4 linked regions of the Homo sapiens genome follow. The main gene of each other region encodes a partner of the protein of the gene in region 4 in a complex. Each region holds a gene or a part of one and is shown on either strand. Other genes may lie near its edges.

Region 1 (4,375 bases), on a different chromosome or scaffold from region 4:
ACAGGGGGCTCCTGGGCCCTCCAACACTTTTTCCCACCGTGAACCTGACTCCTGATGGTCTGCTTCCTAGGCTCTGAGTACTGAAGTTTCCCCTCAGTCCCAACCACCTGCCCCAGGGAGGACCTAGAGCAGCAGACCCCCTTGCTTTGACCTAGCCCCTCCCTCCATAGCACTGACACTGGTTTGGCTGAGGCCAGCTCAGTGATGTGATCCAGAGAAACCTGGGGCTCCTACTGAAATTACAGCAAACCCAGGGGTGCAGGACAATGTGTCAGTAAAGTAACCTAGTGCCCTGGAGTTGGGCTAGAGCAATCCCAGATTACTGTGGGGTTAACTTACACTGGATAAATGCCAACTCTCTCTCCTCTTCCCCCAGGATGGGAAAGGCAGGCAGCTTGACAAGGACAAGCGTTGACCAGCAATGCTAGCAGAAAAAACCACTTTCTAGACCTGGAGGAGATACGTAGAGGCCATATTTCCTGTAGACAAGCCAACGGGAATTATTTTTGCTTCTTTTTAATGTAAACAGAATACACAATCACATTAAAAACCCCAACATGACACAGAATACACACAGAATTATATATAGATATTTACAGGCCCTCGAAAGCCAAAAGGAAAAATGGCCCCTCTGGTTAAGGGAAGCTTCTCTTCCTACCTTGTCCCTGTCCAAAATCAAAGTGCTGAGGCAGCTGAAGGAGCCTCCGCAATTACTTCTGGATATAATGTAGCAGGAGGCTGGAATAACATCAGAAACACCCCACCCCCACCCCAGAGCACAACCAAGATACCGACTTTCTGGCCCTGGCCCTAATCCTAAACTCTCCTCCTTTGCAAGCTGACAAAGCAAGGATTTGTATGTCTCGAGAGGCATCAGCATGACCCCTGAAATTCAGATGCACGGCGGAGGGGTTCCCATCCCATTCCAGCTTTCCCAGCCTTGGGCTGATTGTGAAATGAGCCAAAACCAACCATATCCAAGAGAGGAGGGTGGGGGAAGTAAAGGAAGAATGGATCTCAGGCAGAGATGACTGCTTCGGAGCAGGACCCTGGGAACCAAGGGGAGGTCAAGCTGGGCTCACCCAAGCCCAGGACAGACTGCGGAAGACACAGTGGGGCTGTGCTGCCACCTGGTGGGGGATGGGAGCACTGCAGCAATGAACTAGGACAGTCCCACAGGTACCTTCAGATCATCTTTTCTCTCCATTTCAGTCCCCTAACCAACAGCCTCACTGCAGCAGCTCTTCCCAGGAAATGGGCTTGGAGAAGACCTCCCTTTCTAACCAGAGGTCATAGTTCATCTGAAAGTCCTCAGGGAGGTCCACCCGTTGGCCCAGGACACTCTGCAGGCAGTTGTCCACTGGCAGGAAGTCAGGGTTGCTGTGGGCCCGGTCATAGCGCCGGGCGTTGAAGCGTTCAATGTTGGCACGAAGGGCACACTCCTCTGCCTGGAAGTCCCAAGGCCGGGCATCAAGATCTGAGACAAAGCAGGAAGAAACACCGTTAGGAGCCATGCCCTGTAGCAGCTCCCCATGGATTCACTGGCCAGGAATATTGAGTGTCAACTAAGAGCAGGATACCTCCGAGCTCATCCTCAGAAAGATGCCAGGAATTCCTTCCTAGATCCAAAGGAGAGTCAAGTACAAGCAGAAAAGCCAGAGGTACTGAGAAAGAGGCTTATACTGTAGGGATTATGTAGACCCAGAGAGGGAGAACCATGTGTACAACACATTTCTCTCAAAGTGGCATTCTCCCTGGCTCTCTGGGGTCAGAGGGAGGAACCTGGAGATCTTCTCCTTTGCTCATTCTCTCTCAACTCCCCAACCAGGTACCGTGTGCCACTGTGGGCCTGCACACATTCACAGGGCATTGAGAGTACAGACACAGTCATTCAGCCATGGTGGTATATTCCAGAAACGCAACAACGCAGCAACACGCACACACAGAGCAGCCCAGGTGGGCAGGGGAGACACACTGTGGGCGAAAGAAGAGTGCCTGCAGAGGCCTAGTAGTGGGAACCACACGGCTATGTTCAGGGACTGAGCACTCCCTGTGCCTGGAGCTCTGGGTATGATGGAGGCTGGACTGACAGCCCGTAACAAGGTTGAAAAGGAAGCTGGGTCAGATTACAGAGGAGGAGAATGAAAAAGGACGAGGGAGCCTCACATGCCCTGCCTGAGTCTGAATCTAATTCTAAGGGAAATAGGAAGCTAATGAAGGATTTTACTCAGGGAGGTAACAGCACAGGATCTGCATGTTGAAAAGATTCACTAGGGGGCCGGGCGCAGTGGCTCACGCTTGTAATCCCAACACTCTGGGAGGCCGAGGCTGGTGGATCGCTTGAACCCAGGAGTTCAAGAACCCCCTGAGAAGGCTGGGCACAGTGGATCATGCCTGTAATCCCAGCACTTTGGGAGGCCGAGGTGGGTGCATCTCTTGAGGCCAGGAACTCGAGGCCAGCCTGGCTAACACAGTGAAACCCCATCTCTACAAAAAATACAAAAATTAGCTGGACATGGTGGCGTGCAGCTGTAGTCCCAGCTACTTGGGAGGCTGAGGGGGGAGAATCGCTTAAACCTGGGGGGCAGAGGTTGCAGTGAGCTGAGACTGTGCCACTGCAATCCAGCCTGGGCGACAGAATCTCTGTCTCAAAAGAAAAAAAAGACCACCCTGGGAAACATGGTGAAACCCTGTCTCTATAAAAAAGATACAATTAGGTGGGCACAGTGGCATGTGCCTGTGGTTCCAGCTACTCAGGAGGCTAAGGCAGGAGGATAGTTTGAGCCCAGGAGGCAGATGTTGTGGTGAGCCAGGATCGCACTCTAGCCTGGGCAACAGAGCGAGACCCTATCTTTAAAAAACATCAAAGTAAAAAAGGATCACTAGGGAAATCTGAGACACTGATGGAGGGGAAGAAATTAGAGGCAGGGAAGTCAGTCAAGAGCTGTAAGAGTTTAGGTGGCCAAAATGGGGATGAAAAGAGGGGACACAGTCTTATGACAATTTCTAGAAAAGGAATGACTTGGAGGTACAAGGAGAGATGGGGATGATCGCAGATGCCAAGGCTGGGTAGCTTCTCAAAGTCCTTCCTAGAGTGCCCATCCTGATGCTACAAAAGCAGGAGCTGGGCTCCTTCCTGTTCCTTGGGGGGAAGCTCAGGGCAGAGAAGTACCTGAGTACCACGGGCAGGGAGTGAAAGATGTCACTTTTCCCGACACACTCCCACCCAAATCTGGCTGAGTGCAGAGTCTCACCATTGCCGTATGCCCAGTCGTCGTTCAGCCGATGCCGCACCTTCTGGTAGATGGCAGACATGGTCTTCATGTTGCTCTTTCGCCACTGCCGCCCCAAGTATTTGGTCTGTACCTTGAGCAGCTTCAGCACATAGAGCTGCATCATGGCTTGTTTCACCTTTAGGGCCCGCTTCAAGATGGGGGCTGACTTGAACACCACCAGCATCTGGGAAGGGAAACAAGCAAGCAGCCCAAGTTGAAGACAAAAATAAATGCATACATCCCAGGTCACACTGCTGCTTAACCCTTTGGAAGTTACTGTCAGGGTGACAAACCATCCCAGTTTCCCTTGGACTGAAGAGTTTCCTGATACATAGGACTTTAAATGCTAAAACCAGTAGAGTTCCAGACAAACCAGGATGGTTGGTCACCCTAACTATGTGTCACTTTGGAATCTGAAGAAAGCTATGGATTCCTTCCAGAAACATTCCGGTGTACATGTACACACAGTTATCAGAGGATTCAAGGACCTCCCCACCCCAAAGGCATCCACAGACCCAGAGTTAAGGAAGATTCTCAGAACCCTGATTATGTTACCAATCAAGATTAAGACGACATGGAAAAAGTTCTTCTATAAATGTAGATTTGTTTCAGTGCATGACTGGGCCTCTTCCAGCTTCCAGTTCAATTCATCAAGGAACTGGGAATTGGCCCTTAAAATGCAAGGATACGGCTACAGCAAAGTTAAGTGAGAAGGCACAGTGAGCCCCACCCTGGGGACTCCCTGCTCCCAGCACTCTTCTTTGAGCTCCAAGTTCCAAGCCTGCTGACTACACTGACTCACTTACCATTGTCCTTGAATGCTTCCACTTTGTCAGCTTGTTCAAGATCCGAAGCAGATTGATACAAGAAAAGAGGTTCCTCCAGCAAAATTGGTTACTGTCACCTGCTTCCTGCAGGGTAAACCCAGGAACAATCAGCCCTCATGGCTGCAGTGTGTGCAGCAGTTTCCAAAAGTCCCTCACACATGATCTCAGGACAGCCGGGTCTCCAGGCCTCTACCAGGAATCCCCTGCTCTCAGAGCAGCCCCAGGACTCCATCCCAGAAGCTGGCAGGGGACTAGGGGAAGAGGGAGGCTCCC
Region 2 (7,857 bases), on a different chromosome or scaffold from region 4:
AGACTGGGAAAGAGGTCATTTTGTATTGTGCCTGTAAGGATGACTAGGAATTGAATATGTAGGGAGACAGAGGGAACTCCTTGAGGAAAGGCAGAAAGACAGGACAGTATGGGCTGTGTGTGGAGGACAGAGGGGATGTTGAAGGTGAGGCTATAGACTGGGTTCAGGCCAGAACATTTTGGGTCCTTTTCCCATACCTTATTCTTTCTCAGTGAAATAAGGAAAGCTTTTGGAGAAAATAATTTTGGCAGGGGAGCTGAGATCAGAGGTGGATATGCTATGAGGAGCCTTTCCAGGAAGGGTGGCAATAGCTGACACTGGATGTATATGGCCTTTTATTCCCAGTGCAGGGCAAGGAATGGCTGGAGTTGGAAGAAGATGCCCAAAAGGCCTATATAATGGGACTCTTGGACCGGCTAGAGGTGGTCAGTAGGGAACGGCGGCTGAAGGTGGCCCGGGCTGTTCTCTACCTGGCCCAAGGTGAGTGACCACCCTTGCTAGCTTTAGAGGGGTGGAGGCTTGAGAGGGAAGTGGGCATTATCAGGACTGAGATGACGCAGGCTGTGCTGGGAAAGCAAGGTTTCTTGCCTCTCAAGGACAGATCTTGTCATGTGCTAGGAGTAACCTGTGCTTATGAGGAAGATGAGATAGTGTTGAGTGCTGTTCTAGATCCCTCGGGATCTGCCTTTATCTTACCAGGTATGTCAGAATTTTTTATAGGGTTCTTCTTTTCCCTACCCTGTACTATAATCATATGTGAATACTAGCAAGAGGTGTGGCCAGAGCTGATATGTACCACCAGCTGATCATGGAGACAAGACATCAACTGTGGCCTGGCCCCAAAACTGAGGAGAAATAGGAGAGTGTCACAGATACACATGGACCCCTTGCATTGTTTCTCATTGGCATTTTGAAAGTTCAAGCCAACATAACTGCGGGAGTGGATGCTGTGAGTAATTTGGAGATGATCAGAACTAAATAGAGTAATTGGGGAAAGCTGCTCAGAAGAAACCTGTTAGCCAGGTGTTGGAAAGGGAAATGAGATAGCCTAGCTGGAGTGAAAATAAGCCTACGATCATAAATATAAGGCGTGTTAACAGAACCAACCAGTTGGGAGCTAAAAAAAAAATTGTAAAATAAAAAAATAATAAATGAAGAGGGGAAAGGGTGGACATTAGGTGAAGAGAAGACTAGCAAATAGGACTGTGCCCTCCTGTATCTCTTGGGTCTGGTGCTCTGGCCAACTTCCAACTGCCAGTACCTTCATATGTTTGCCCAAGGACTTTATTTATCTAAGTTTTTTAAAAGAAAGTCTCACTGTGTTTCCCTGGCTGGTCTTGAACTCATAGGCTCGAGCTATCCTCCTGCTCCAGCCTCCTAAGTAGCTAGGATTATAGGCATGTGCCACCATGCTCAGCTTCTGCTCAAGGGCCTTCTCTGCAGCCCATACAGGGCATCCAGGAAGTGTAGGGAATCAGTGTGCTCCTTTAGTTTAGCACCCTCATCCAATGACTAACAGGAGTTAGTGGATGGATAGCCTGACTGTCTCACCCCTCTTGGATAGAATAACTGTGAGTTGTGTGTTTTATACTGTTTCCAAATTATCCCCTGAGTGAACTCTTTGGGCTTCCTTTTCTTCCCTATCTCTACTGATGATTCCTGGGAATGATTCCCAAATAAGCTACTTGCACTGGAATCCTTACTTACCTCAGGATCTGCTTCTGGGAGAACTCACCCTTAAGACGATAGGCCATTGATGAGCACATTGGACCTAACCCTGGAGACTACCTCTCCTCTCCCCTGACTCATTCCAGGAAGTTCTTGGGGCCCCTGTCATACCTATGTCAGCCTAATTATTAGGCAGAGTATTATAGGAAAATCTTAAGATCATGGGGCAGGGTGGAAAGAACTGGGATACTGCCACCCCTCAACCCCTGTAACAACTGTCTGGTCCTTTAGGTACTTTTGGGGAATGTGATTCAGAGGTCGATGTGCTACACTGGTCCAGGTACAACTGCTTCCTGCTGTATCAGATGGGGACCTTCTCCACCTTCCTGGAGCTACTCCACATGGAAATTGAGTGAGAAGCCTTAGGGGAAGGGCTGGCCTACATAACCCCCATTCCTTAAAGGGGCCTCATGTTCTATGCTGCTTCCCTCACTATAGAGACCCCCTGTGAGGAACTGGGTCTACTCACACCTCAGCCCAAAGCTCATTGACAGTTCCCCTCCATCCAGCCATGTTCTCTGATATTCTGTTCTCCCTCCCTGAGGTTGGATACATCTGCAGCTTCTGCCTCACTTACAGCTTTAATCCTGGGCTTCAGGGGCCTATCCTGAGTGGGTTCTCTTTTTATTCAAGGACTTTCTTAGCTCAGCCTAACTCTGGAATTCAAGAGGGAAACTATTTTGAATGCATGACCCAAGAAAGACAGGAAATCAATTCCTGTCATTGTGCCCAATTCTTTCCCTCATGGGCTATAGTTCTAGAGGTGGCCTTATTTGCTGCTACCACTACAGTGACCCCTTGTTTTGTCTCATGCCCATCACCCAGGAGTTTGAGATAGGGTGCAATCTGCTTATTATTCATCAGGTGTTTCTTAGCATCTGTTTTATGTCCAGCACAGTTCTAAGCATAGTGGGGAATGCAAGAGGAGTGGATACCACAGATCCTGCCCTTGCCTTGTCTTCACCATAGATGAGAGTTTGCTGAGGTGGCAGGGGAATTCTGTCAGCTCCTTTACTCTAGACCAGTTTCATTAGTGGCTGCCTAGCCAGGGAATGGCAAGCACTCATATTTGTGTGAGTGATAAGTAAGAGCACAGAGAGAAAAGAAGTCTTATGCATTCCTGTTCTTTTTCTCCTCCCCTGGCAGCAACAGCCAGGCCTGTAGCAGTGCCCTTCGGAAACCAGCTGTCTCCATAGCTGATAGCACAGAGCTCAGGTGAGTGGGGCTAACTATGGGCTTGGAACAGGGCAGATGATTAGCACCTGGGTTACCTTTTCCCCAAATCCCAGATGACTCAGACCATTAGGAAGTTGCCCTGTAGCTAATCTCACTGGGTTGGGCTTCCCACAGAGACCATCTCTGAGGTCTGTGACTATGGGCTGGGAATTGCCTTGGGAACCTCTTGTGACTCTTCTGTAACCCCAGGGTGCTGCTGAGTGTTATGTACCTAATGGTGGAAAATATTCGCCTGGAGCGAGAGACAGACCCCTGTGGGTGGAGAACAGCCCGGGAGACCTTCCGCACTGAATTAAGTAAGAAATGGCACTTGAGGAAGGTGTGGATGGGGTGCTAATGGGAGAGGGGAAGCAGAGCATCTGCCTAGGAGAGGCAGACAGTCGTTTTTTCTTTTGTTTTCTTTTTTAAAATTAATGTCCTTTCTTTTAGGACACAGATACTGCATGGCAGGCACAAGGGCTGGGCTTGATTGCCGCCCTGTATCTATGAGCTAAGACCAGCCATGTAACTTCTCTATGCCTTGGTTTCCTTGGTTATAAGTGGGGATAGCCATTCCTCTCCCACTCTATCACGAGTCCCACATGAAAAAATGAGTTGAATCACCTTGAAAACTGAGTTCTGTTCAAATGTAAGTTGGTGTTGTCATCTGACAGGGATAGGATATGAAGGACTATGGGATTTTAAAAATATATTTATTGATGTGGAAAAGTGAATGACATTGAGTCCTTTAGCCAGAAAGCAATGTCTTCATTATTGTTACTTCTAGTTTGGCATCCAACCCCAAAGCGTCACCCTAAGCTCTGGGGCCTATGCCATTTTAATTCCATGGCGTCCCTTCCTGCCCTTGAGGGGCTTCCTTCTGGGGGCTAAGCCTCCTTCTCAGGACCAAGTACTCTGGTATTCTTCAGGGGAGGTGAGTGCCTTCCTGTGTGTGTCCAGAATCAGGGTTACATGAAAAAGGTTTTAGCTGCCTCATCCTCACTTTCTCACTCCCCTCTCTCCTCACCCCTAGGCTTCTCCATGCATAATGAGGAGCCTTTTGCCCTTTTACTCTTCTCCATGGTTACCAAGTTCTGCAGTGGCCTGGCTCCTCACTTCCCCATAAAGAAGGTCCTGCTCCTGCTCTGGAAGGTGGTCATGGTGAGTAATTCTCCCCACTCCCACATTATCAGATCAGCAATGCCCTATGCCACCTCAGTTTCTTCTAGTCTCATTCCAGGAGGCTGGATCCAGGGAGCAGAACAGGCAGCCCTTAGCCAACTGCTAATATGGAGGGGCAACAAGGCTGTCCTAGAGACATCAGATGTTCTATGTTAGAATGGGTTTCATGTTTCTATTGGATGGATGGGAGATGCCACTCCATAAATTGGGGATGTCAGTGGTACCTTCTCTTATTAAAGCCAATGTTTGATGGAGAGAACACTGGTTGAAAGTTGGTAGATCTGGGCTTTGCTGATACTGAGAAACTTTGGGCAACTCTCTGTGCCTCAATTTCTCTAGCTGTAAAAGGTTGGGGTGAGTGCCTGCCCTCCCTCCAGATAAACAGAGGTTTTGTATTTTTTTTTTAATAAAAATAATTTTTTCTTACAGACAGGCCTCCCTGTGTTGCCTGGGCTGGTCTTGAACTCCTGGTCTCAAGCAATCCTTTCACCTTGGCTTCCCAAAATGTTGGGATTACAGGCATGAGCCATTGTGCCTGGCCAGGATTTGCTTTTTAAAAAATAATGAAGTTCTTATAAATATGTGGTTACATTTCTGTTACTAGTTATTCAACCTGATCCTTCATTTTTGGCTCCCATCTCACAAGGCAGGCCTAATAGGGGGAACTGCCTCTTGACTGCAGAGGAAATTGAGTGACTCTGGGGGTTTATAGCACCTGGATGGTGTTCCTTAAAAAAGTCGATAGTTTCTTTTTTTTCTTTTTTTTTTTTTTTGAGGAGGCCCGCAGGAATTCCTTTCCTAAATTCTGTGATATTTCCCATACTGGGGCAGTAAATAATGCCTTATCCTGACCCCTGAGCTCCTCAGTTGCCGTGGGGATGGTAATCATATTTGCCTCTTTATGTTTTACTACCTCCTTATTAAGGAAAAGGTCTGAAGGGACTGGAGGTTGTGGCCCTTTCTTTTCATCCATGTTTCCCTGACCTTGGCTCTCTCTTACTTCCCTTCCTTCCTCTCTCTCTGCCCCTTTCCTGTTTCTTCCTTAGTTTACCCTCGGTGGATTTGAGCATCTGCAGACTCTCAAAGTACAGAAGCGGGCAGAATTGGGCCTGCCTCCACTGGCTGAAGACAGTATCCAGGTGGTGAAGAGCATGCGTGCTGCCTCCCCGCCCTCTTACACTCTTGACCTGGGAGAGTCTCAGCTGGCACCCCCACCCTCCAAGCTGCGAGGCCGCCGTGGCTCTCGAAGGGTATGGACTGAAGCAGACAATGGTATTGGGACACCGACTGGCCAAAAATCAAGATTCTAAGTTACTCTGGGTGTGGTAGGAAAAAGCAGTAAATGACCCGGCTCATCCTGCCCAGGTTGGCCCTATGACCAACCTGAAATCTTAGGGTCTCTAGTTTGGCCTCTGTCCCCCAGCCCTGACAGCCCCCTGCGCTGTTGTGATGTGACACTGTGATATCATGTCATATATAGCCATGTCTTGCTACAGAATCATTGGCCTGGACCTCAGTGCCTGGAGTTCCTTACATTCTGAATAACAATTAAGGGTATAATCCTGGGGATAGGGACCCAGGATACCGGAACAGGTCTCCAAGCAAATCCATTTTTCTGGGGTAAGGCATTTTACTATTTTGAAGCACCAGGAAGTTTTACTGTCAGCCAGCCACACTCTTAACTGGCCCTGGAACCAAAGGCTTACATTTAAGAGATGACTGGGTAGGGGTCTATGTATATAACCATGTGACACTAAACGACAGGGATACAATCTGAAAAATGTGTCATTATGCAATTTTGTCACTGAGCAAACATCATAGAGTGTACTTACACAAACCCAGATGGTATAGCCTACTGCACACCTAGGCATATAGCCTATTGTTCCTAGACTACAAACCTGTACAGCAGGTTACTATACCGAACACCATATGCAATTGTAACCCAATGGTGTTTGTGTATCTCAACCTAGAAAAGGCCAATAAAAATACAGTATTATAATCTTATGGGTCCACAATTACATATGCAGTCCATTGTTGACTGAAGCATCGTTGTGCAGCACATGACTATAGTCTGCTGTCCTGAAAAGGTCAGAATGAAAAGTTATACTGAGATCTGACTATGTTCTTACAAACTCCCCTGCCTGACCCACTTCAGTTTATCAACAGGGCTAGATAGTAGTGCTCAGTAATCCAGTCTCCATTATCTGCAATAAAATTTTTTAACTTTATTTTTGTTTTATAAAGTAATGCTTACTCATTGTAGAAAATTTGGAACAAATATAAAAATGTGATGAAGGGAGAAAAGAAAAATCACCCACAATCTTAACAACCAGAGACAGTCACTGTTAACTTTTTGGCCTATTTCTGTCCAATCTTTTTTTCTTTGTCACAAGATTTAAAATTCCAAACTTGCTTCCCTCTGCCTAGCAGCAAGCTTCTGTCCTCCTCTTCCTCAGTCAGCCAGCTGGTGTATGCTCACAGAAGGCAAACTAATTGAATGTTCACCTAAGCAGAGCATAATTAGGAAGGAAAGTGCTGGCAAAAAAAGGCATCACTGCTTTCTGAAAGCTAAGTAATTGTGACTTTGGGATTATCTATGCTATGTTCCCTGGCTAATGGCAGGGTTACCTGAGAACTTCTTGTCCTGTTATTGGGCCGGGTGGGGACAGTAGGTTAAGGTGGGGAATTGGATGTTTTCGCAAGGGCTGTGTTCAGATTCCATGTTCCCTGAAATGTGGAGGCCTGTGGATATGGGGTGGCCTCAGACAAGGATGCCCAGAGTGAGATCTCTGCATGCCTACCCTCCCTTCTTTCCCCTCCAGCAACTCCTCACTAAGCAGGACAGCCTGGACATCTACAATGAAAGGGATCTCTTCAAGACTGAGGAGCCCGCCACAGAGGAGGAAGAGGAGTCTGCTGGTGATGGAGAACGAACCTTGGATGGAGAGCTAGACCTGCTAGAGCAGGACCCTCTGGTGCCACCTCCACCCTCACAGGCACCCCTCTCTGCTGAGCGGGTGGCTTTTCCCAAGGGCCTGCCCTGGGCCCCAAAGGTCAGGTAGGTTTGATAGCATCAGGGACCCCTATGCTTCGGGGTTTCAGTCTCCAAAGGCCCAAGATGGGGTAGTCTATGTATTCAAGGCTCGTTAAGTTGGTCTGGCAGTCAGAACTCCTGGGTTTGAAATTCCTTCTGTTGATTGCTGCCTTTTTCCACTGCTCCAGTCCTCTGATTGGAGGGATAGGAGCCCGGAAAGTTTTTCTCTCTCAAAGTTTGCTTTTCTTCCCTTCTCTGGGATTGGTCTTTCCACCATCCTCTCAGACAGAAGGACATTGAGCACTTCTTGGAGATGAGCAGGAACAAGTTCATCGGATTCACCCTGGGGCAGTAAGTGACTGAATGGCTGGAACTGGCTACAGAGTGGTTCCTAGGGGGCCAGAGGAGCAGGTAGCTTGGAATGAGGGATGGTGCCTGGTGGTCATAATGTAACCTAGAGCCCCTAGGCCATGGACAACTCCCAGTGACTACTTTGGGTTCTTTCTATGGATTTCTTTTTTCCTTGAGTTTCTTCCACTTTTCCTCAAAGAACTTTTGTGTTTTTAGCCAACTGTAGGACTTTGAGCAACAAGTCATTTCTCTTTCGGGCTTAATTTTTTCCTGAGGTTGTTGGGTTAGATGGTTTCTGTGGGCCCTTCCTGCTCTAATGGGCTAAAATTCTGTGAACAAGAGACATG
Region 3 (7,857 bases), on a different chromosome or scaffold from region 4:
AGCTGGGTCCCGCATCCAGCCCATCCCACGGCCCCAGGGGTGCACAGAGGGCAAAGGCCAGGCCAGGAACAGACCTTCTGTGAACTGTGCAGGGCCGTCCCCTTGTGAAGCTTGCTGTGTGGACTCGGCCGGATGGTAGGGGGGAACGTCCAGATGGGGCCCTGCTCCCCGTCCTCCGCCTCGCCATCACTGAAGAGGATGAGGAGTTGCCAGGGCCAGTGGGGAGAGGGCCAGGAGGCATGAGGGCCTCAGGGCACACCTCACGGCCAAGGGAAACCCGAGGTACCAGACGGGGCTCTGCCAGGCCACGGGGTCCAGCTGATGCCTCAGCAGGCCCTGTCCTGCAGCCTTGAGGGGGTCCCTGCCCAACACTATATCTGGTCACCCTCACCCCCAGGGCCCACGCCCCTGCTTCTGGAGTGGGGACCACCCACGTCACAGCACCTAGGGTCACCATGAGGATAAACCAGGTCCCTACATGTCAGAGTCCTCAGAGCTGGACTCCTCGCCATGCCCCTCTGACTTCCAGCGCTTATAGCGGTCGATGAGCTCCGTGAGGAAGGAGGTCTTCTTGGTGTAGCGTGTGATGAACTTGTGCTTCAGGAGCTCCTTGGCCGTGGGCCGCTGCAGGGGGTCAGGGGAACACTAGTCACTGGGCCCAGCCAAGCTCTGCCTAAGGGAAGCAAACGTGAGGCAGCCTGGACCGGGGCGGGCCCTCACAGCTACAAGGCTGGTGGGCCTGGGCCTCCGGGCTGTGCCGCCCACCCCAAGCGAACGCCCTCCCTCCACGTCCTGTCTAGAAGGGACCGGGCCAGAGGCGGGCCTTACGAATCGGGGGTCTTTGTTGAGGCAGGCCTCCACGAACTCCTTGAAGGGCTTGCTGTGCTGGCCCTCCAGTGTGGGTGGGCTGTTCTTGGGAATCAGGAACAGGACGCGCATGGGGTGGAGGTCAGAGTTTGGAGGCTCCCCCTTGGCCAGCTCGATGGCTGTGATCCCCAGGGACCAGATGTCAGCCTGGACAGAACACAAGGACTGTTGCTGCCCTGAGCACCCGAGCCAGGCATGGTGCCCGCACCTGCCCGCCCGCTGCACCCACCTTGAAGTCGTAGGCCGACTGCTTGATGACCTCAGGTGCCATCCAGAAGGGGGTGCCCACGAATGTGTTCCTCTTAATCTGCGTGTCTGTGAGCTGCCCTGCTACCCCAAAGTCCGCCAGCTTCACGTCACCCTGCTCCGAGAGTAGCACGTTGGCAGCTGCTTGACACAGGACAGGCAGGCGTCATCCCAGGCTCCACGTGGCTCCACCCCGGGCCCCCTGAGAAGGGCCAGGGTACCATCCACCTGGCCTCCTAGGGCACAGCAGGGCTGTCCTCAGGACCTCAGCCCTCCTTGCCACTCTCAAACCCAGGGCCACCTAGGGCCACAGGGGCACTGCCAGCAGGAGCCCAACGGCTCCACTCCGAGCTCCAGGGCTCTTCCTGCATTTGGCTTTTACGACAAATCCCAACGACAAGCGACTTCGCCCACTGGGGGCTACCGCAGAGGTGACCCTGACCAAGGGTGTAGCCAACACGGGCCTGCCAGGAAGCCCCCTGCTCCACCAGAATCGTCCCCTACATGACAGAGATGGCTCGTTGCCAGTGGCAAGTCCCTCCCCATGGGCTGGCCCAGCCTCCCGTCTGCTCTCAGCAGGGCCAGACCACACGCTGGGGCTACTCAATTCTACACCTGCTGCTGTGCCGTGCACCACAGGGAACCAACAACTCCAGCCAAGTGTGGCCCTTTCCTACACTCAGTCCACAGCTGGTTTCCTCAGCGTACAAGGAAACCGTTACAAGTAGTATCTTCTGGAAAGGGAGCGAGACAGGACTGCTCAGTTTCAGGGTGGCCACAAGGTTCTCTATACTCCAGACCCTGGGCACCACTAGCCACTTGCCCCTCACAGGCCCCGGCCTCTCTAAGGTCAGTGGGGCTCAGGACGTTACAAGAGCCACATCCACCCCCAGCAGGACCTTTGATGTCTCGGTGGATCTTGCGTTCGGAGTGCAGATAATCCAGGCCCTTCAGAATCTCCCGCAGGATCGTGGCAATGTATGTCTCCTCCAGGGGACCTGGTTTAAGCTGGAGAGGAAGGTGCGACAGCAGGGCCTCAGCTCCTGTCCCAGGCCCAATGCCTGAGTTCTCTGCCTCTCTCACAGGGAAGGGCTGTCCCTGCAGATAGCTGGGGGCTTCGTGTTCCTTTACTTCCCAAACAGAACTAAGTTTCAGATGGGAGTGGGGTGGTGGAGGCTCTTTCTAAAGCATATAAACCAGCCTCACCTTACTGTCATGTAACAGAAAAATAGGCTCCCAGCCATCTCCCAGCAGGCCTGCCCCCGCCCACTCCCACAGGCCAGGACCCCTTTCAGCACCAACTGGGCAGACGTGCAGATGGCAGTTCATTTTTGCTTTAGACGATTCCTAATTAACACCTAACGTGCCATGACACCAAACGAGAGGTGGCCCCTGGAGCCCATGAGTCTGAGGGGCAGGGGACTCGGACACTGCATGACCCCCCACTGCCATGGCCTATGCCTCACCAAGTCCAGTGCTGAGCCGCCGCCCAGGTACTCCATGATGATCCATAGCTTGGTGCTCTGGGACCGGAGACAAACCCATCAGCATTTGGCAGCAAGAGGAAGGGCATGCTCCAGGGTGGGAGTCACAGGCCGGAGTCAGCCAGGGCCCAGGCCCCACCGGTCCCATCCCTGCCAAGAACCCTGAACAGGAAAGGGCTCTCTCGGCCTTGCCCATCTTCCCCTCCTGCCACACTACTGCTACAGATGCTCAGAGGACAGGTTGAGTACACACAGCAGTGGCTGACTCCACTTCACCAAGACCCCATCAAAAACCAGGCTGCTGATCCAGTCCTACAGGGCTGGGAAGAGGGCATGGCTGGCAAGCATGTGACCCGACACACCCATCACCCTCCTGGGCAGGATGGCCACAGCGTTCCCTACACCCCAGACACTGGCACCACCAGCCACCTGCTCCTCACAGGCCCACTCACCACTGCCAGTAGGGGCCCCCCAGAGTGCTCCTAGCAGCGCCCTCACTGCATTACCACAGGCAGGCAAGTGGGTCCCAATGGCCATTTAGAGCCAACTGACCCTCGTGGACGAGGGCTCACACCCTGCCTGCCCAGGGCAGTTTCCCGGAGGGCATGCACTGAACCGTCAAGACCGCCTTGCACCCTCTGGCATGTCACTCAGTCCCTCTGACATGGAAGAGAGCCGGGCACAGCACCAGCAGGGTCCCCGCCTCCCCACAACAGGCACCTTTAGGTAGGAGCCAAAGTAGCGGGTGATGTAGGGGCTGTCGCACTGACTGAGGACAGTGATCTCCTGCTGGATGTCCTCGATCTCATCCTCGGCCTCCTCCAGGTCGATGATCTTGATGGCCACCACCTCCTTTGTGTGGTTATCGATGCCCTTGTAGACCTCCCCAAACGAGCCCTTGCCAATGCGGTCGAGCTTGGTGAAGAGCTCCTCAGGGTCCACTCGAGAGTGCTGTGGGGCCAGGGCGGGGACAGAGGGCAGACAGCGCCGGTCACAAGAGGCGGGGGACAGGCAGAGGCTGCCCTGCTGGGGAGGAAGGGACCTGTAGGGAAGGGGGAGTCCAAGGGAGCGCACCTCAATTCTTCTCTGGTTTCTTCCTTTCTCCCTTTTTGTTCAAAAACTAAACTTGGCCGGGCGTGGTGGCTCACGCCTGTAATTCTAGCACTTTGGGAGGCCGAGGCAGGTGGATCACTTGAGGTCAGGAGTTCGAGACCAGCCTGGCCAGCATGGTGAAACCCCATCTCTAATACAAAAAAATTATCTGGGCGTGGCGGCTCATGCCTGTAATCCCAGCTACTCAGGAGGCTGAGGCAGGAGAATTGCTTGAACCCGGGAGGCGGAGGTTGCAGTGAGCCAAGACCGCACCATTGCACTCCAACCTGGGCAACAAGAATCAAACTCCATTAAAAAAACAAACAAACAAACAAATAACAACAACAAAAAAACCTAAACTGAACTTTCCATGCAAGGGAAAAAGTCCCCAGAAAGTATAAAGAGGCCAGGCCAACTCGATGAACCCTGCTGGAAACAGGAGCTTTAGGTGATGACACGGCATGAAGGTTGCCTCATCTAACCCGAACAACATGCCAGCCCCGTGACAGATGTTAATAGGTGAATGGCCCCTGGGGGTGAGGGGGGATTTGGGAGCTCTTACTTAATTTGTTATAAATCTGAAATTACTAAAAAATAAACTCATCAGGCCAGGCTTGGTGGTGCACACCTGAAATCCCAGCACTCTGGGAGGCCAAGGCGGGTTGATCACCTGAAGTCAGGAGTTCGCAACCAGCCTGACTAACATGGTAAAACCCCATCTCTACTGAATACAAAAAAAATTAGCCGGGCGAGGTTGCGTATGCCTGTGATCCGAGCTACTTGAGAGTCCAAGACAGAAGAATCACTTGAATCAGGGAAGCGGAGGTTGCGGTGAGCCGAGATCGCACCATCGCACTCCAGCCTGGGCAACAAGAGCGAAACTAGGTCTCAAAAAAATAAAAAATTTAAAAAAAAAAACCTCATCAAAAACAAAAAACCTCAGTATGTGTTAACCAAGTTCTCCTCCACTCCTGAAAGTCACGTATTTAGAAAGGGCTTCCCTCACCCCTCCATAAGTCCTCCTGACAGCTACACCAGCGCGGAGTTAGAAACTTGATGCTTTCTTGATGCAGAAAGCTGCCTCACACAGTCCTCAGATTTAAAGAAGCAATGCCTAAAAGTTTCTGAGCCAGTGGTGTGGAAGGTGCCTGGGGTCTGTGGCCCAGGCCCAGAGTCCAGGGGAAGCCAGCAGAGGTGTGTCCTCAAGCCTCGACCCTTTTTTAAATGTTTTTGAGATGGCTTCTCACTCTGTCACCCAGGCTGGAGTGTAGTGGTGCAATCTTGGCTCACTGCAACCTCTGCCTCCTGGGTTCAAGCGATTCTTCTGCCTCAGCCTCCCAAGTAGCTGGAATTACAGGCATGCACCACCACTCCCAGTTAATTTTTTGTATTTTTAGTAGAGATAAGGTTTCACCATGTTGGCCAGGCTGGTCTCGAACTCCTGACTTCAGGTGATCTGCCCATCTCAGCCTCCCAAAGTGCTGGGATTACAGGCGTGAGCCACCACGCACGGCCCCTCCCCTAACAACATCAAGGGTCTTGATGCCAATTTAGTGTGGCAGAGCATAAAAAGGCAAAACAGCCTGGGCGCGGTGGTTCACGCCTGTAATCCCAACACTTTGGGAGGCCGAGGCGGGCAGATCACGAGGTCAGGAGATCAAGACCACCCTGGCTAACATGGTGAAACCCCGTCTCTACTAAAAAATACAAAAAATTAGCCGGGTGTGGTGGTGGGCGCCTGCAGTCCCAGCTACTCGGGAGGCTGAGGCAGGATAATATCATGAACCCAGGAGGCGGAGATCGTGCCACTGCACTCCAGCCTGGGCGACAGAGCAAGACTCCGTCTCAAAAAAAAAAAAAAAAAAAAAGGCAAAACGACTAATTATGCCACAAAAAAAAACACTGAAGACAGGACAGGTCCTTGGGTGGGGGTGCCCTGCACGTTCCTGGGCCTGCGGAGACCGTGCCCACCAAGAAGGATGGGGTACACCACACACAGCCCTCACACTCACCCCCTGGACACCTGTGTGCTGGGTCCACCCCAGGCCTAAGCCCAGCGGAGGAGCTGGCTGAAGCCAACTGGACATCGCACCAGCCTGAGGCGACACTTCCGTGTGAAACTGCCAATTAGCTGACCTCCCAGGGTTCCTAACCAGGAGGGTGGAAGGGGCGGCACACAGGCCCCCACCTTGAAACATGCCGCTGCACATCCCTTTTTGAGTGCCAGACCTCGAGGTGACTGGAACTCTGGGGAAGGAAAGGCAGTTAGGGGAGGGCCAGAGGCCACCTAACCTTTCCCTGCAAGGCTGGCTTGTCAAGGCCCGGGGGTGTGCAGGTGGCCTCCATGCAGCAGCTAGAGCAGGCCAGCTGCAGTGTACACACAGACCCTTGCTTAGCCCAAAGGTCTGGCCAGTTGAGACAGCTGGTCGAGTCAAAAGTGACCTTTCTCATTCTCTCATCAGTACAGCAGCCCAGTCCTAAAGCCAGTACCCATGGAGGAAACAGCAGGGGGTGCCTTGAGCCCACCTGCTACCAGGAGTCCCCAAAGCCAAGGTCAAGAAACTCGGCAGGATAGAGAGAGCTGAGTACTGCCTGGGGTCATTCCGGTCAAGGTGAGCTGTGTCTGCCCCCAGCCCCATCACTGCTGCTGACCATGTGTTCTAAAGAGAAGCCAGGAAAAATTCAAAGCTGACAAGTCACAGGTGCTCAGCTGTCTCCGGGTTGAGGGTGGGTGGCACAGATGAGGTGAGAACCAGCCCCTATCTGAAAGGAAAGTCAACCCAGAACATGCAATCTTTTTTTGAGATGGGGGGTCTCGCTGTGTGCCCAGGCTGGTCTCCTCAGCCTCCTGAGTAGCTGGGCCCACAAGTGCATGTCAAAGCATAAGCTCATCAGCCCACTGGCTGTCATAGGTAAGCAGTCAGTGTTAAAATATCACCCTCCTGCCATAGAGAGCATCATCTCCGTTTCCTCCTCCCTGTTTGCTCCATTTCTGGTGGAGGACCACCCGTTCCTAGCCCAGTCCTGGATGCCAGGTGCAGGACAAGGTTAAGAAGCAGCCCCTCTTCTTTTTCTTTTTTTTTTTGAGATAGAGTCTCACTCTGTTGCCCAGGCTGGAGTGCAGTGGCGTGATCTCGGCTCACTGCAACCTCCGCCTCCCAGGTTCAAGCGATTCTTCCACCTCAGCCTCCCGAGTAGCCGGACTTACAGGCACCCGCCATCATGCCCCGTTAATTTTTTTTTTTTTTGAATTTTTGTAGAGACAGGGTTTCACCATGTTGGCCAGGCTAGTCTCGAACTCCTGACCTCAGGTGATCTGCAGAAGCAGCCCCTCTTCTGCCTGCTCCTCCTCCAGCAGGCCCAACGCCACCTTGTCAAATCCTCCCTGTTTGCTCAGCCCATCAACGCTTACTCGGGGCCCTGGGACGCTGCTCCACCGAGCCGTTAGCCTGTAGGCCTGGCCTCAGCCTCAACCCAACCCTGCCCAAGCACCCGGAAAGACCCCAAGGGAGTCCTCCTGGGGATTCCAGAGGTCTGTTGGTGCCCTGAGCTTGTGTCCTCCCATCTACTCCTGTCTAAGGTGGCCTGAGAGAGGGCCTGGAGAAAGCAGGGCCATGACCTGGCAGCATTACCCAGCACCACCACCCCTCCGACTCTTCAGGCCTCTCTGGATGACGCGTCCTCCCGCCCTGCTCTACTCCCTGCTCCCTGCTGAGGCCATGCTGCTCTCCACACAGGGCCTGGAGCTGAATCTGCTCCATCACAGCAGCCCCGGTAGGGAAACCCCTGGGTGGGCACTCAGACCTCTACTGCTTCACAGCAGGGGAGCACAGCGGACCCCTAAGCCAGAGCCAGGGCTCATCAGCCCAAGCAGAAACTGTGTGACAGGAACCCTCTTGGCTGTGATCCTGGCCCTACAATGACATCGCAGGCCAAGCCAAGGCAAGCCATCCCCACCCCCACCTGGAGAAGAAAGGGTAAGTGGGCCCCTGGCCTGGAGGCTGCGAATCCTCTTTTGGATGTAGCAGCAGCTGTGGCCTGGATGATCACTCGGGCCACTCAGCTGACTCGAGCGGTGGACACCTGTTCTCCACATTAGCCCTGGGGCTGCCAGGTCTGGGGCCTCCACTTGCCAATGTGTCTGCTGTCAGTGTTGCCCCACAAAACA
Region 4 (8,620 bases):
AAAAACTAGAAAAAATCTAAAAGTCCACCAACCAGGGTCAAACTCAATCAGCTATGGTGCAAACATCCCGTGGGACGCTATGCAGCTATCAAAAAGAAAGAGTTCTCTGTGCTGATATGAAAGGAAAACCAAAACAGATTATTATGTCACAAAATGATACATACAGCAGTAGTTCATCTATTACATAAGCACAATAACTCTTCTCTCTCAGGAGAGAAGAGCAGGAAAGGGACGAAGAGAAGGAACTTTCCTTTTTCACTTACATATATATGTGTATACACACACTCACACACACACACACACCCCTCTGAGATGTCTGAATTTTTACTAACTTAACAGAATAAAAGAAAACAAAAGTACAAAGTGACAGTGCTGGTACCATGCCAGACACAAGTTCCTCTCAAACTCCAAGAAGGGTCAGTAAGTGAGGGGATAAACATCTTTTCTCTCATCAGCCTCCAGGATGAGAAGATGGTGTGGTGGGTGCTGTGCGGTGCACTGGTGCAAAGTCCCAGAGGCCAAGATTCAGTCCAAGCTCTGCTATGACTGCTTGGGTGACCCTGGGGAGGCCACTATGCTTGCCTGAACCAATTTTCTCAACTGTACTGGGTAGCAGAGAGGTACAGAACATGGGCTTAAAAGTCTACCGACGGTCGGGCATGGTGGCTTATGCCTGTAATCCCAGCACTTTGGGAGGCCGAGGCAGGTGGATCTCTTGAGGCCAGGAGTTCGAAACCAGCCTGACCAACGTGGCAAAACCCCATCTCTACTAAAAATACAAAAATCAGCCAGGCGTGGTGGTGGTGCACACCTGTAATCCCAGCTACTTGCGAGGCTGAGGCAGGAGAATCGCTTGAACCTGGGAGGCAGTGGTTGCAATGAGCCAAGATCATGCCACTGCACTCCACCCTGGGTGACAGAGTGAGACTCTGTCTCAAAAAAATAAAAATAAAAATAAATAAATAAATAAATAAATAAACAAAAGGTCCACCACAGACCAGCCCTTCTGCTCATCTGCTGGGATCCTAGATAAATCACCCTCTCAAAACCTCCATTTCCTCTCCTGATTTTTTTTAAAGGTAGGGGGAATATCCTTTATCCTCCCAGAATGCTGCAAGAATTAAATGACAGCTCGTATCTACAGTACTTGATACAGCGCCCCAGACATGGTATGTGCTCACTAAATTGCAGCTGGTACCGTTATTGCTGAGTGAGGTAATGACACTGCCTCTGCCTACATCACAGGGCATTGTGAAGATCTGATGAGATGTATGCTGGGAAAGAGCTTCGGAAGTAGAGAGTGGGACAGAAGTGAGAGCAGTTACATAAGGATTCTGCTCCCATCCCAGCCCCAAGCCTCAGCCACCACAAGTGAGGGCAGGGGGAGAGTTACTGGAGGGTCTTTACTCATCCTATGAACAAAATGCTTTTTTTTGAGACAGGATCTCACTCTTTTGCCCAGGCTGGAGTGCAGTGGTGCAATCATGGCTCACCGCAGCCTCAACCTCCGGGGTTTAAGCAATCCTCCCACCTCAGCCTCCTGAGTAGCTGGGACTACAGGCGCATGTCACCACACCCGGCTAATTTTTGTACTTTTTTGTAGAGATGAGGTCTTGCTATGTTGGCCAGGCTGGCCTCGAACTCCTGGGCTCAAGGGATTCTCCCACCTCAACCTCCCCAAGTGTTGGGATTACAGGCGTGAGCCACCGCACCCCATCCCTACCGACACAATTCTCATCAGCTATTTATTTGGGTACCAGCTTCCTACTAGATAGCAAACGGCAAATCGGAAGGGGAAAGGTGGGCTGCTACAAGCAGGTAATGACAATTTCTGCTAATAATAACCCAGTCCAAGAATCTTCAGACTTCCAGCGGGCCATTCCTGATCCCTTCAAATCCGGACATCTCCATGGTCCTCCAGTCACTGCCAATGGACCTGACGCTCCACGAGGTCACAAACCCTAGCCCAACTCCTCAGACTCTTCCATTCAACATCCCTGTCCCAAGCTACCCCAAAAACCACGGGGTCTTTTCCCAAGACTTCCACAAACATATCCCCTTCCCCCCAACCCCAGTCTACCCCCGTTCCGAGATGCCTCCTCATGTTGCCTTCGGGCTCTACAAAATTCTCCCCCCTAAAGCATCACCCCAGGGTAACCCCTAACTCGTCCTCATTGGCACCATCCCAGGACCCTCACCTCCATACTGGACATGCCCAACACCCCACACTCCAGTTCAGGGCTCTCTACCTACATCCTACAACACACGTGCCATCTCAGTGCCATCGCGCCCACTCCTGCACACCCCCAAAGTGGAACTTCCACTCTTAAGCTCTCCCATCCAGGCTCCTAGGGTACATTCCCTGCTCTGTCCACACTTCCACTCCAAAGAACCCTTCCCTGCACTGTGCAGCCACACATGCCCGGGATCCCCAAAGTTTCTCCTCAGAGGGGAAGGCACACACCTTCATCCTGGACCCCTTGAAACCCTCCTCCCACCCCTCGGGTCCTTACACAGCCCTCCTTCCGTGCCCACCGTCCAGTCGCCCCGAAACACACCGATCCCAGGTTCCCGACTTCCTCTCCCTAAATCCTCCCGGTTCCCCATCTGGACCCGCTCTTTCCCAGCGGGTCCCAAGTTCCCCCCTTGGACGCTCCCACCTCCAACCTGCACCTGGCTAGGGCCATGGTCGGGGTCGGGGTCGGGAGTCCCTCGGCGCCCGGCAAGCTTCTGCTTACTCCCACAGGAGACCACTCAGGTCTCCCAGACCCCTCCAGCTCCTCTCCACACCCTTTCCCGAGTTCTCTTAGCCTCCCCTCCAGGGCTCGAGTCGCCTCTCTCAGGAGCCCCGCGGCCAGCGTGCTCAGTCCCAGTCCCAGTCCCACTCCCAGCTGGTTGTGGTCCCTCCGCCCCTTTCTCTCGGCCGGTCCCGGTGATCCCTCCCACCCCCGGTCCCTCCACTCCCACCTCGGGCCGTCCCGGTCCCGTCCCACCCCGGAGTGCCCTCAGGACACCCCTCGGACGGCCCCTCACTCGCCCTCCGGGACCGTCGCGGTCCCCTCCCGCCCCCCCGCCGGCCGTCCCGGCGGCCATTGCTCCAAGATGGCGGCGGCGGCGGCAGCGGGTGAGGCCGGGCCGGGCCGGGCCGGGTTGGGGGTCGGGGGTCCCGGGACAGCGCTCACCTGTAACTCGGCGCGCTCGGCCTCCCAGCGGGCTTTCTCGGCTTCGAAGCGCGCCCACTCGTGCTGGATAAAGTGCAGGATCCCCGGCAGGCTCAGGGGCTCCGGGCCCGCCGTGGGCCCGGGGCTGCCTCCGCCGCCGCCTCCCTTACCTGCCGGGCCCGGCCCGGGGGCAGGGGCGGAGACCGGGGCCGCCCCAGTGGGGCCAGGGCCCGCGCCTGAGCCGAGCGGACGGCAGGAGGAGGCGGCGGCGGCGACCGCGGCGGCCGCTCGCTCCTCCATCATGGAGGCCCCGGGGCCGGCCTGCGCGCCCGCTGTGCCTCGCGCGCCTGCGCGGCCGCGCCAACACCCCCCCCCCTCCCCCGCCGCAACCACCGCGCGCGCGCCCGGCGGGGGACAGTAGGAAGGGGGGCCGGCGGCGAGCGCGAGCCTCGCCCACCCGGGTCTACACCGAAGGGTAGCGTGCCCGCGCGGGGGCCGGCGGGTGGGAGATCGCGCCCCGAGGAGGGCGAGGGAGACCCAGGCCCCGCGCGACGGTCCCCCTCGCTGGAGTGAGACTGAGGAAGGGGCCGCTTTCTGCCCCCCTCCTCCCACTTCGCCCCAGAGAAAGAGCCTTACCCCTTCCACACCCAAACACCACTCTCCTGGACAATTACTTTTACTCTGAGAGAAAGGGCGACCAGCAGTGGCCCCATCCTCTCTGATTGCCGGCCAGGTTGGTTGTCATGGTAACCCTTCCCCAGCGGTGGGGGCGAGGTGGTGGGGAGCAGCCTTCCCCTCGCTTCCACCTTTGTGGTTATGGAGCCCCAAACCTCTTAGGACTCTGCACCAGGAGAAGGTTGCTAAGGTAACCTAAGTGTCCGTGGTGGTCCTTCTGCTCCTATCCTCATTGATTACTATGGCAACCTCCCCCCCACCTAGCATTCAGGTAGAAAGGACCCCAGCCCCAAGGACACTGATCTCTAAGAGAAGCACCTCTTCCCCAGCCCCTCCCCCATAGCCACCTAGTTGGCATTACCATGGTAACCGTCTTCCCCTTCCCATCGTGGGAGGCCCATGCACCAAACTAACCAGGTGTTTTTATTTAGAGGAGATGCTCTGCTGAGGGGCAGTTGCTATGGTTACAGGGCCTGGACCTTCCTCCGGAAGGTGAGAAACAGGCAAGTTCAAGGCCTGGTTACTATGATAATAGAGCAGCCCCCTTCGAGTGACCCTAGGAACCAAGCCCAACAAAGGAGGGGATTTTTTTTTTTTTTTTTTTTTTTGAGACAGAGTGTAACTCTTGTTGCCCAGGCTGGGATGCAATGGCCCAATCTCGGCTCACCACAACCTCCGCCTCCCCGGTTCAAGCCGTTCTCCTGCCTCACCCTCCCAAGTAGCTGGGATTACAGGCATGCGCCACCACGCCCGGCTAATTTTTTTTTTATTTTTAGTAAAGACGGGGTTTCTCCATGTTGGTCACGCTGGTCTTGAACTCCCGACCTCAGGTGATCTGCCTCAGGCCCGCCTCGGCCTCCCAAAGTGCTGGGATTACAGGTGTGAGCCATCACGCCCGGCCAGGGGATGTTTTAAGAATGTCTCTCAGAGGTAGAGTGTGTCTATGGAAGGGGTTGTCATGGTAACAGCTTCTGTTGGCTTCTAGCCCTACCTTTTCTGGACACATTCATGCTAGAGGGATGGTTATAGGTTGCTATAATAACTGACATCCCTCCCATTCACCCCACCCCACTCCTGAGACACCCCAGGTGGTGCCCGAGATTATAGGACTTCAAGAGAAAGGATTCCCTGACCTTTCTCTTGCCACTTTTGTGGATAAGATGAAATTGTGCTCTATTGTACGGAAATGGCTGATTTGGGATTTTCTGGTTCTCCTCCTCTCAGGAGCGCAGCTCAGCTGGGCTGGAACTGCCCTCCTGGAACTCCCCCAGCCTACAACCTAGGAGGTAAGAAGTCCCTCAGTGTCACCTACACTCTCATGGAAACTGCCCTTCCTCATTCCTTAAGGCTTTCCCATGTCTCTCATTTTTTTCTTTTTCTTTCTTTCTTTTTTGAGACGGAGTGTCGCTCTGTTGCCCGGGCTGAAATGCAGTGGCGCGGTCATGGCTCACTGCAACCTCCACCTCCCTGGTTCAAGCGATTCTCCTGCCTCAGCCTCCCGAGTAGCTGGGATTACAGGCACCTGCCACCACGCCCGGCTAATTTTTTGTATTTTTAATAGAGATGGGGTTTCACCTTGTTGGCAGGCTGGTCTCGAACTTCTGACCTCGTGATCCGCCCGCCTCGGCCTCCCAGAATGCTAGAATTACAGGCGTGAGCCACCGCGCCCAGCCCTCTCATTTTTTTCTAACCGTCACATTCCCATTCCACAGGTGCAGGGACTGAGGCTCAGGCCAAATCGCAACTCAGACCCAGTGAACCCAAGGCCTGAAGAGAATTTGGATTCATTTACCTTGTTTTGTGGGGACTGGAGAGACAAGTAAACTCTCAGAGTAACTGTCCCCTCTGACTACCATTTCTAAGGCAAGCCCCCTGTTTCTACTCTTGCGCCCCCTGCTGGTTTCCTGCCCTGTCTGTAAGTTGCATGGCTTTTGTCCGTCTTTTTTTTGTTTGTTTGTTTGTTTTGAGACAGGGTCTCACCCAGGCTAGAGTGAAGTGGAGCAATCTCGGCTCACTGCAACCTCCGCCTCCTGAGTTCAAGTGATTCTCACACCTCAGCCTCCCCAATAGCTGGGATTACAGGTGCGCACCACCATGCCCAGCTAATCTTTGTATTTTTTGGTAGAGAGGGGGTTTCACCATATTGCCCACGCTGGTCTCTAACTCCTGACCTCAGGTGATCTGACCGCCTGGGCCTCCCAAAGTACTGAGATTACAGGTGTGAGCCACCACACGTGGCCCTGTCAGTCTTCTTTCTGTCTTCTGGAGGGCTGACCTAATGAGTACCTCGTTCATTCTGTATCCTCAAAACATGGGGTCCACCACAAAGAATACTTGAGTTTGTTGAGTTACTGAGTTGAATTAATTTATTAATGTGCCATAGCCAAGCTTTGAAAGCCCCTGTCAGGTTAGGGCTGGGGAAGGCTCACTAAAGATGGGCTGAGAGTTGGGGCTTCAGAAAGAACCCAAGAGAGAAGGTAAAGTTTACTGGTTTAAAGTACGACTCTGTAGCCAGCTTCTTGGATCAACTCTTGGGTCCACTACTTCACATTGTGTGACCTTGAATAAGAGACTTTAACTCTTTAACTCTCTGTGCCTTTGTTTCCTTTTTTTTTTTTTTTTTTTTTGAGATAAGGTCTCGAGGCCAGGCGCGGTGGCTCACGCCTGTAATCCCAGCACTTTGGGAGGCTGAGGCGGGCGGATCACGAGGTCAGGAGATTGAGACCATCCTGGCCAACATAGTGAAACCCCATCTCTACTAAAAATACAAAAATTAGCCGGGCATGGTGGCGCATGCCTGTAATCCCAGCTACTCAGGAGGCGGAGGCAGGGGAATCCCTTGAACCAGGGAGTTGGAGGTTGCAGCGAGCCGAGATTGTGCCACAGCACTCTAGCCTGGTGACAAAGCGAGACTCCGTCTCAAAAAAAAAAAAAAAAAAGAGTCTGGCTCTGTCACCCAGGCTGGAGTGCAGTGGCACAATCTCAACTCACTGCAACCTCTGCCTCCTAGACTCAAGTAATCCTACCACTTCAGCCACCAGAGTAGCTGGGACTACAGGTGCACACCACCATGCCCGGCTAATTTTTTAAATTTTTTTGTAGAGACGGGGTCTTACCAGTCCATGCTGGTCTCAAACTCCCAGGCTCAAGCAATCTCCCCCAGCCTCATCCTCCCAAAGTGCTGGGATTACAGGCATGAGCCACCACATCGGCTGGTTTCCATTTTTAAATGTGATCATAACACGAGGATTAAACAAGTGAATATGCCTAAAGTGCTTAGAACAGGGCCTGGCACATGGTGAGCTGCTAGAATTGTTATTATTATCCTCCCGATTCAGAAAAATGTAGAACATTCAGACCTTCAAAATCATCATTGTATCCACTTTGCCCCAACGAAGGGGTTTGTTGCCCTTAGAGGCGGTGAAGTCTGCATGGCTTTATCAGGGTACTAGATGATTCCTTTCCCCGCCTCAGGTTCCCTCACACCCTCACCAGCAGGTGGCACCTCTTCATCTGGCCATCAAATCTGCTGGTGTCTGGTCTGCGAGGGCCAAGAGTTGTGCTGGGCCTGAGGGTAGCCAGGACCTGGCTGCTGTCCTCTGCCCTGCTGGGCACCTCCTTCCTGGCCCAGAGTCAGTCAGACAGTGTGGCAAGAGCCAGGGCCTCAGAAGCGGAGACCTCGGTTCTCGACCCTGCATCCTTCTTATCTCTCTGAGCCAGAGGTTCCTATCTTTCGTTTTTGAGACTGGGTCTCGCTCTGTCGCCCAGGCTGGAGTGCAGTGGCTGAATCACAGCTCACTGCAGCCTCCACCTCCTGGGCTCAAGGGACCCTCCTGCCTCAGCCTCCCTCCTAAGTAGCTGAGACCACAGGTAGGCACCACCACGCCTGGCTGATTTTTGTATTTTTTTAGAGACGGGGTTTTGCTATATTGCCCAGGCTGGTGTTGAACTCCTGAGCTCAAGCGATCCTCCTGCCTCAGCTTCCCATAGTGCTAGGATTACAGGAGTGAGCCCCCATACCCAGCCCACGTTCCTTATCTTAATAATTCAAGTCACTCATTCATTCAACACGTATTTATTGAGCACCTGCTATGCACCAAGCACTGAGCTGTGCTCTGGGGATACAGTAGGGAAGAAAACAGATTCCCTGCCTTCCATGGAGATTCTGACAACAAACAAGCTAAGTAAAATCCACGTGATAACTACTAGGGGAGCAAAATAAAGCAGGAATGGGGGATAGGAAGTACATGGGAGATGCTTTTTTTTTTTTTTTAAAGACAGACAAGGTCTCGCTCTATTGCCCAGGCTGGAGTGCAGTGGCGCCATCACAGCTCACTGCACCCTTGACTTCCCCAGCTCAAGTGATCCTCCTACCTCAGCCTCCTAAGTAACTGGGACTACAGGTGCAAGCCATCACATCCAGTTAGTTTTGTTTATTTTTTGTAGAGATGGCATCTTACTATGTTGTCCAGGCTGATCTGAAACTCCTGGTCTCAAGCGATCTGCCTACCTCAATCTCCCAAAGTGCTGGAATTACAGGTGTGAGCCACTGCACCTGGCCAAGATGCATTTTTTTGTTTATTTACTTATTTTGAGACAGAGTTTTGTTGTTGTTGCCCAGGCTGGAGTACAATGGCATGGTCTCAGCTCACTGCAGCCTCTGCCTCCTGGGTTCAAGCAATTCTCCTGCCTCAGCCTCCCAAGTAGCTGGGATTACAGGCGCCTGTCACCATGCCCAGCTAACTTTTTTGTATTTTTTTTTTTTTTTTTTTTTGAGACGGAGT

The links.
Region 1: STRN4 (region 4) and STRIP1 share a complex: the UniProt entries of both Homo sapiens proteins name them as parts of the core of STRIPAK complex.
Region 2: STRN4 (region 4) and STRIP2 share a complex: the UniProt entries of both Homo sapiens proteins name them as parts of the core of STRIPAK complex.
Region 3: STRN4 (region 4) and STK25 share a complex: the UniProt entries of both Homo sapiens proteins name them as parts of the core of STRIPAK complex.

What each region holds. Positions count from the first base shown.
Region 1 is NC_000001.11:110,050,767-110,055,141, reverse strand, and holds the end of STRIP1 (striatin-interacting protein 1), read right to left. Parts: intron 4,187-4,375; coding exon 4,082-4,186; intron 3,460-4,081; coding exon 3,255-3,459; intron 1,478-3,254; coding exon 1,230-1,477; 3' UTR 501-1,229; downstream 1-500. UniProt on the Homo sapiens protein: Plays a role in the regulation of cell morphology and cytoskeletal organization. Required in the cortical actin filament dynamics and cell shape. Part of the striatin-interacting phosphatase and kinase (STRIPAK) complexes.
Region 2 is NC_000007.14:129,451,268-129,459,124, forward strand, and holds part of STRIP2 (striatin-interacting protein 2), read left to right. Parts: intron 1-345; coding exon 346-480; intron 481-852; exon of another isoform or gene 853-949; intron 950-1,959; coding exon 1,960-2,080; intron 2,081-2,874; coding exon 2,875-2,943; intron 2,944-3,153; coding exon 3,154-3,260; intron 3,261-3,976; coding exon 3,977-4,104; intron 4,105-5,171; coding exon 5,172-5,375; intron 5,376-5,432; exon of another isoform or gene 5,433-5,745; intron 5,746-6,555; exon of another isoform or gene 6,556-6,815; coding exon of another isoform or gene 6,816-6,947; coding exon 6,948-7,183; intron 7,184-7,444; coding exon 7,445-7,510; intron 7,511-7,857. UniProt on the Homo sapiens protein: Plays a role in the regulation of cell morphology and cytoskeletal organization. Required in the control of cell shape. Calmodulin-binding scaffolding protein which is the center of the striatin-interacting phosphatase and kinase (STRIPAK) complexes.
Region 3 is NC_000002.12:241,498,161-241,506,017, forward strand, and holds part of STK25 (serine/threonine-protein kinase 25), read right to left. Parts: intron 3,549-7,857; coding exon 3,318-3,548; intron 2,637-3,317; coding exon 2,580-2,636; intron 2,122-2,579; coding exon 2,013-2,121; intron 1,255-2,012; coding exon 1,097-1,254; intron 1,015-1,096; coding exon 829-1,014; intron 625-828; coding exon 479-624; intron 190-478; coding exon 75-189; intron 1-74. UniProt on the Homo sapiens protein: Oxidant stress-activated serine/threonine kinase that may play a role in the response to environmental stress.
Region 4 is NC_000019.10:46,742,967-46,751,586, forward strand, and holds the start of STRN4 (striatin-4), read right to left. Parts: upstream 3,485-8,620; 5' UTR 3,465-3,484; coding exon 3,183-3,464; intron 3,125-3,182; exon of another isoform or gene 3,091-3,124; intron 1,819-3,090; exon of another isoform or gene 1,794-1,818; intron 1-1,793. UniProt on the Homo sapiens protein: Calmodulin-binding scaffolding protein which is the center of the striatin-interacting phosphatase and kinase (STRIPAK) complexes.